Homo sapiens: one gene and its partner. The protein of the gene in region 1 purifies or fractionates together with the protein of each later gene. This does not show direct contact. Each region holds a gene or a part of one and is shown in the gene's direction. Other genes may lie near its edges.

The links.
Region 2: the proteins of TMEM184B (region 1) and BBS4 purify together in Homo sapiens (affinity purification with mass spectrometry; one large-scale study listed by BioGRID and IntAct). This does not show direct contact.

Annotation. Positions count from the first base shown.
Region 1 is NC_000022.11:38,228,011-38,231,510, reverse strand, and holds part of TMEM184B (transmembrane protein 184B), read left to right. Parts: intron 1-95; exon of another isoform or gene 96-176; coding exon 177-267; intron 268-766; coding exon 767-842; intron 843-3,500. UniProt on the Homo sapiens protein: May activate the MAP kinase signaling pathway.
Region 2 is NC_000015.10:72,710,207-72,713,706, forward strand, and holds part of BBS4 (BBSome complex member BBS4), read left to right. Parts: intron 1-2,037; coding exon 2,038-2,101; intron 2,102-3,500.

The DNA of each region.
Region 1 (3,500 bases):
AGGTCAGATGTCTGTGTTCTTGACGGGCTCCTTTTGCACAACCTTATGTCCCCCAGCCTCCTCCCTGTTGCCACACACAGCTGTGGCTCTTTCACCTCCATTGCTGTTTAGAATCCCAGCATCTGCGGACCCATTCTGCTGATTTGACTGGTTTCTCCTGGACACTCTCTTCGCAGCCTTGGTCATCTATAATTTCCTGAGCCTGTGCTATGAGTACCTAGGAGGAGAAAGTTCCATCATGTCGGAGATCAGAGGAAAACCCATTGAGTGAGTATGGAGTCTTCCCAGAGCCCTAAACCACCCCGTTTCCTGGGCCTGGTGTACCTCGAGCCGTCCTGGCACCAGCTGGACACAGACCATGTCTGCCCGTGACCTTGACCTGCTGTGCCTCACCACATTTCCTGAGCAACGCCATTCTTCTGGGCGTTTTAGGAGGGCCTCTGCGGCTCAGTCTTTCTCTCTCTGTCTCTTCCTGTCTCAGTCTTAGTGCTTTCCTGTCTGTTTCTGCCTCCTGCAGTTTTTACATTCAGAGCTCTCCAAGTTGGTTTGTCACCCCAGGGCCAGTGCAGCCCTGTGTCCCTCCGCCTATGGCATGTGCGGATGCCCTGCCATGCCTCTCCCTGTGCTTGGCCTCGGGTTCAAAGTCTGCCCAGAATGTGTGCCCCAGCTCGTCTGGATGGGTGGGAGGGCGGCCTTCCCCACCCCACTGTTCCCAAGTCCTGGCTCTTCACTCACTGCCACTGCCTGCTATGCTTGTCTCTTCCAGGTCCAGCTGTATGTATGGCACCTGCTGCCTCTGGGGAAAGACTTATTCCATCGGATTTCTGAGGTTCTGCAAACAGGTGTGTGCCCCCAGCAGCTGCCTAGCTCAGGAGGAGCAGGGCGGGGTCTGGGAGGCCCTGCCGTGGGCTGCCCTGGGCCCCACCTTAGAGGTCCCCTTTCCTATGAGGCACCCCAGGCCCCCAGCACCCACCCCCCGAAGCTGTTAGGCAGATACCACATTAGCAGGGTGTGCTTGGAGGGGCAGCGACCGACATCCTGGGAGTGTCTGTTGCACTGTGGGCAAGAGCTGATCCCAGACTCTTGCTCGTGTGACCAAGTCTCAGTGTGTGTGAAAATCAGAAGAAGTGCGTGGGGATTCTAGAACCTCCATTTGAAAACTTCTCATCAGCTGCAGCTAGGGGGCAGGAGGGTTTTGGCATTAAAGACACACGCCAGAACAGGCCTCTGCCGTCTCTTCGTCTCTCCCTGCATTTCCTGGTTGGCAATCCAGCCGCTCTAGCTTCCTGGGCTGACTTCCCTGTGGTCTAGAGTAGCCTTGGCAGTCCAGCCGCTCTAGCTTCCTGGGCTGGCCTCCCTGTGGTCTAGAGTAGCCTTGGCAATCCAGCCGCTCTAGCTTCCTGGGCTGACCTCCCTGTGGTCTAGAGTAGCCTTGGCAATCCAGCCGCTCTAGCTTCCTGGGCTGGCCTCCCTGTGGTCTAGAGTAGCCTTGGCAATCCAGCCGCTCTAGCTTCCTGGGCTGACCTCCCTGTGGTCTAGAGTAGCCTTGGCAATCCAGCCGCTCTAGCTTCCTGGGCTGGCCTCCCTGTGGTCTAGAGTAGCCTTGGCAATCCAGCCGCTCTAGCTTCCTGGGCTGACCTCCCTGTGGTCTAGAGTAGCCTTGGCAATCCAGCCGCTCTAGCTTCCTGGGCTGACCTCCCTGTGGTCTAGAGTAGCCTTGGCAATCCAGCCGCTCTAGCTTCCTGGGCTGACCTCCCTGTGGTCTAGAGTAGCCTTGGCAATCCAGCCGCTCTAGCTTCCTGGGCTGGCCTCCCTGTGGTCTAGAGTAGCCTTGGCAATCCAGCCACTCTAGCTTCCTGGGCTGACCTCCCTGTGGTCTAGAGTAGCCTTGGCAATCCAGCTGCTCTAGCTTCCTGGGCTGACCTCCCTGTGGTCTAGAGTAGCCTGGGTGGGGGCAGTGTGGTGGGGTCGCTCAGTGTGTGGGCCTGGGTGTCTGACCATCTGAGCCTGATTTCCAGCTTTTCCTCTGACTCTGTGACCTTGGATAATTGGCTTACCCTCTCTGAGCTTTAGTTTCCTCCACTGTAAAATGAGTGTAATGATACTCCTCTCTAGAGATGGTTGTGAGGATCAGATGAGGTCATGGATGTAGAGCTTTCAGCCCGGCGTGGTGGAGCCCACGGCCTCCTGTTCAGGGAGGCAGAGTCTGAGGGGATCACGCCCACTCTTCATGACCTTGCGTTAGTCTCCTCTGGGGCTCCGTAGGGGCTCTGTCATGTCAGCCCCTCCAGCTTCGCCAAGAGTAGTCACGAAAGTACATGAAACCCACAGCCAAGTCACGATGGCCCTGGAGGGCGGGGCCTGCTGCTCCCTTCTGTGCAGGGCCCAGGCCACAGGGCGGGCACACCCACAAAGCCTCCACCTGAACATGCCAAGTCTCCAGTTCTGCTTCCAGACCTTCCTTCCCTAGCATGTTCCTAAATTCAGAATCTCACCACTGGACCTGCAGGGAAAGAGTTAAAACTATCCTGGGTTCAGGGTGGGGCATTGAGAGCCATTGTTTACCAGTTGGTGCAGCCACCCAGGTTCCGGCCAGCTGTGACTCACTGCCTTGTTTGATGATTATATTGTCTACAAAATTTTGATTTCATGATTGTTAGCTAGTGTGGCCTTGTTAGAAATTATTCCCCAGCCCTGTGGGCTCAGATGTTCTGTTCTTGTTCCTGGCGGTGGCAGGGAGAGATATAAGAAGAAAGAGAACAAAAGAGGCCTCTTCCTTTCTTTACCAGGGCGAGAGAGCACACCCCACAGCTTTGTCCTAGAGGCACAGAGACAGGCCTTTGACTCCTCAGGGCCAGTGCTCAATATCCAGACCTTCTGGAGAGATTCCCTACTTAAAGTAGAGATTCCCAGATCAACCACCCACTACCCTAGCCCATAGGAGAAGTTCTGGAATGGAGCCCTGGAACCTGGCACATGTCTAAAGCTCCCTGGGGGTTCTGATGTCCAGCCCAGCCTGGGAACTGCTGACTGGTCCAGGGTATGGTCAGGTGATGATTCTGGGGCCTGCTGGCCTGGGCTCTGCTGCTGCTGCTGCTGCTGCTTCAGCTTCTCTCTGCCTCAGTTTCCTCACCTGTACCATGGGGATAATGACAGCACCCACGTCAGGGGGCTGTCATGAGTACCAGGTGAGCTGACCCAGGGAAACACCAGCCTGTTGCTAGGCTCATAACTGGAACTCATGCAAACTGCCGTTCTTCCCTTTTCCCCAGAAGGTGCCAGTCCCACTTCTCTAGGCGGGATGACAGGGCCAGGGACGTTCTGTGGGGCTTTCTGAGAGTGGGACTGCACGTCTGCCCCATCACGCGGGCCTCTCCGTATGGCAGCCCCATGGTGTGGGCTGCCTGGGGCTCCCCTGCAAGACCCACTCAGATCCCCAGTTGGGGCAGAAGCTGCAGGTTTCACGGATCACGGTTCCCACTCCAGGCTCCTCGTCCTCT
Region 2 (3,500 bases), on another chromosome or scaffold:
TTTTTTTTTTTTTTGAGATGGAGTCTCACTGTCACCTAGGCTGGAGTGCAGTGGCATGATCTTGGCTCATTGCAGCCTTTGTCTCCCAGGTTCAAGCAATTCTTCTGCCTCAGCCTCCCCAGTAGATGGGACTACAGATGAGTGTCACCATGCCCAGCTAATTTTTTGTATTTTTAGTAGAGATGGGGTTTCACCATATTGGCCAGGCTGGTCTCGAACTCCTGACCTTGTGATCTGCCCGCCTTGGCCTCCCAAAGTGCTGGGATTACAGGCGTGAGCCACCGTGCCCAGCCCTGAGTTTTATTTTTTAATTTCTCTCTTACTGCAAGGTTGATCATCATGTGTATATTTAAAAACCATTTGTATTTCCCTTTCTCTGTATCTTTGGTGACATACCATATGTGTTACAAACTTGCAGGCAGACAGTGGTAGTACTAACATGCAGAATGTATCCTTGGTGTCATCTTTTTTGGTATCCAGAGCTTTGTGACCCATCTAAGGTTTTTAATTTATACCCATGGCATTTATACCTATGGCAATGCACAGAACTAATTCATACTGGTATGACAAAGATTCATACCAGTTTTTTTTTTTCTTTTTTTAAGTGGAGTTTTGCTCTTATTGCCCAGGCTAGAGTGCAGTGGCGCAATCTCGGCTCACTGCAACCCCCGCTTTCCAGTTTCAAGCAATTCTCCTGCCTCAGCCTCCCAAGTCGCTGGGATTACAGGTGCCCGCCACCATGCCCAGCTAATTTTTTTTTTTTTTTTTGTATTTCTAGTAGAGGTGGAGTTTCACCATGTTGGTCAGGCTGGTCTCAAACTGCTGACCTCGTAATCCACCTGCCTCAGCCTCCCAAAGTGCTGGGATTACAGGCGTGAGCCACCGCACCCGGCCCATACCAGTTTTTTTTGACACCGCTGATCCGAAGGCAGATACCAGTATGAATCTTTTTTTTTTTGAGATGGAGTTTTGCTCTTGTCGCCAAGGGTGGAGTGCAATGGCGTGACCTCGGCTCACCACAACCTCCGCCTCCTGGGTTCAAGCGATTGTCCTGCCTCAGCCTCCTGAGTAGCTGGGATTACAGGCATGTGCCACCACGCCTGGCTAATTTTTTGTGTTTTTAGTAGAGATGGGGTTTTTCCATGTTGGTCAGGCTGGTCTCAAACTCCCGACCTCAGGTGATCTGCCCGCTTCGGCCACCCAAAGTGCTGGGATTACATGCGTGAGCCACCGCGCCTGGCCACCAGTATGAATCTTGAAAGGTTCTCTTTCTTTTTCATCTGTGATAATACTTGGAAATCTTATCACACTTTTCTTAGCTTGCCTAGTTAGATTTTAGACAGGGGTTGGCAAACTTTTTCTGTAATGGGCCAACAATATTTTAGGGTTTGTAGGCCACATACAGTCTCTACATCATATTTGTTATCTTATTTTTTATAACCCTTTAGAAATAAAAAAACCACTGTTAGCTTGAGAGCTGTACAAAAATATACAGGGCCTGTAAGCCCTGTAGTTTGCAAATCCCTGTTCTAGAAGAAGTAATCACAACAAGGGAGTTGAAATTTTAAGAAACTGAATGAACTAATACTTTACTAGGCATTATTAATACTCTAGGTTTTTTTACATATGATTCTTGTCCACGTCTGCTTTTTCATTACTATTTGTTTTCTTTTTTTTTTCAGACAGAGTCTCACTCTGTTGCCCAGGCTGGAGTGCAGTGGCGCTATCTTGGCTCACTGCAACCTCCGCCTCCTGGGTTCAAGCGATTCTCCTTCCTCAGCCTCCTGAGTAGCTGGGATTACAGACACGCACCACTACTGCCCGGCTAATTTTTGTATTTTTAGTAGAGATGGGGTTTCACCATATTGGTTAGGCTGATCTTGAACTCCTGACCTCATAATCTGCCTGCCTTGGTCTCCCAAAGTTTTGGGATTACAAGCATGAGCCACCGCACCTGGCCTGTCCATGTCCACTTTTTCTTAAAGACACCTGAAGAAACTTAACCACTGCTCAGAAGCATTTTTCTCCCTCTTTCAGGCTGTTATCAAAGAACAGCTTCAAGAGACTCAGGGATTGTGTGAATATGCTATCTATGTCCAAGGTAAGACACATACTTCTTGTCTTCTTGCTAGAGAAATACACTTTTCCTAGGTTCTTGAAAAAGATCAGGCAATTGAAGAAACAAGTTCAAGTACAGTCATGCACCACTTAACAATGGAGATATGTTCTAAGAAATGTGTTGTTAGGCAATTTTGTCATTGTGTGAACATTACATGGAGTGTACTTACACAAACATAGATGGATGATATAGTGTACTATACACATGATATAGTCTGTTGCTCCCAGGCTACAAACCTGTATGAGCAGGTGTTATACCGAATACTGTAGGCAGTTGTAAAACAGTGGTAAGTGTATCTAAACATAGAAAAGGTACTGTAAAAATATGGTATAAAAGATAAAAAATAGTATACCTGTATAGAGTACTTACCATGGATGGACTGGAAGTTGCTCTGGGTGAGTTAGTGGTGAGTGAATGTGAAGGTCTAGGACATTATTGTATACTAATGTAGACTTTATGTTGTATACTAATGTAGACTTTATAAACACTGTACACTTAGCCTACACTAAATTTATTTAAAAATATTTTTTCTACAATGATAAATTAACTTTAGCTTACTATAACTTTTTACTTTATAAACTTTAAAACTTTTTGGCTCTTTTGGGGTAATACTTAAAACACACAACAACATTGTACATTTGTACAAAAATAGTTTCTTTAGGTCCTTATTCTATAAGCTTTTTTCTTTTTCTTTCTTTTTTTTTTTTGGTAGAGAGACAGAGTCTCACTTTGTTGCCCAGGCTGGTCTTGAACTCCTGGGCTCAAGCAGTTCTCCTGCCTCAGCCTCTCAAAGTGCTGGGATTATAGGCATGAGCTACGACACCTGGCCCTTTATGCTATTCTTAAAACTTTTTATTTTTTTACTTTTAAACTTTTTTGTTAAAAACTACGATACACACACTACTACAGTGGTGGTACTAACATGTGGAATGTGTCCTTGCTGTCTTTTTTGGCATTCAGAGCTTTGTGACCCATCTAAGGTCTTTGTGACACACACACACACACACACACACACACACACACACGCACACGCACGCACGCACTGGTCTAGGCCTACACTGAGTCAAGATTATAAATATCACTGTCTTCCACCTCCTTATGGAAGGTCTTCAGTGGCAATAACATACATGGAGCTGTCATCTCCTATAACAATAGGAATACCTTCTGGAATACCTCCTGAAGGATCTGCCTGAGGCAGTTATTCTTTTTTTTAGTAAGTGGAAGGAGTACACTCTAAAATAAAGATTAAAATGTATAGCGTAGTAAATACATAAACCAGTAATGTAGTCATTTATTATCAAGTATTAAGTTCTATATATATGTAATTGTATATGCTGTACTTCTATGTGACTGGCAGCACAGTAGGTTTGTTTATACCAGC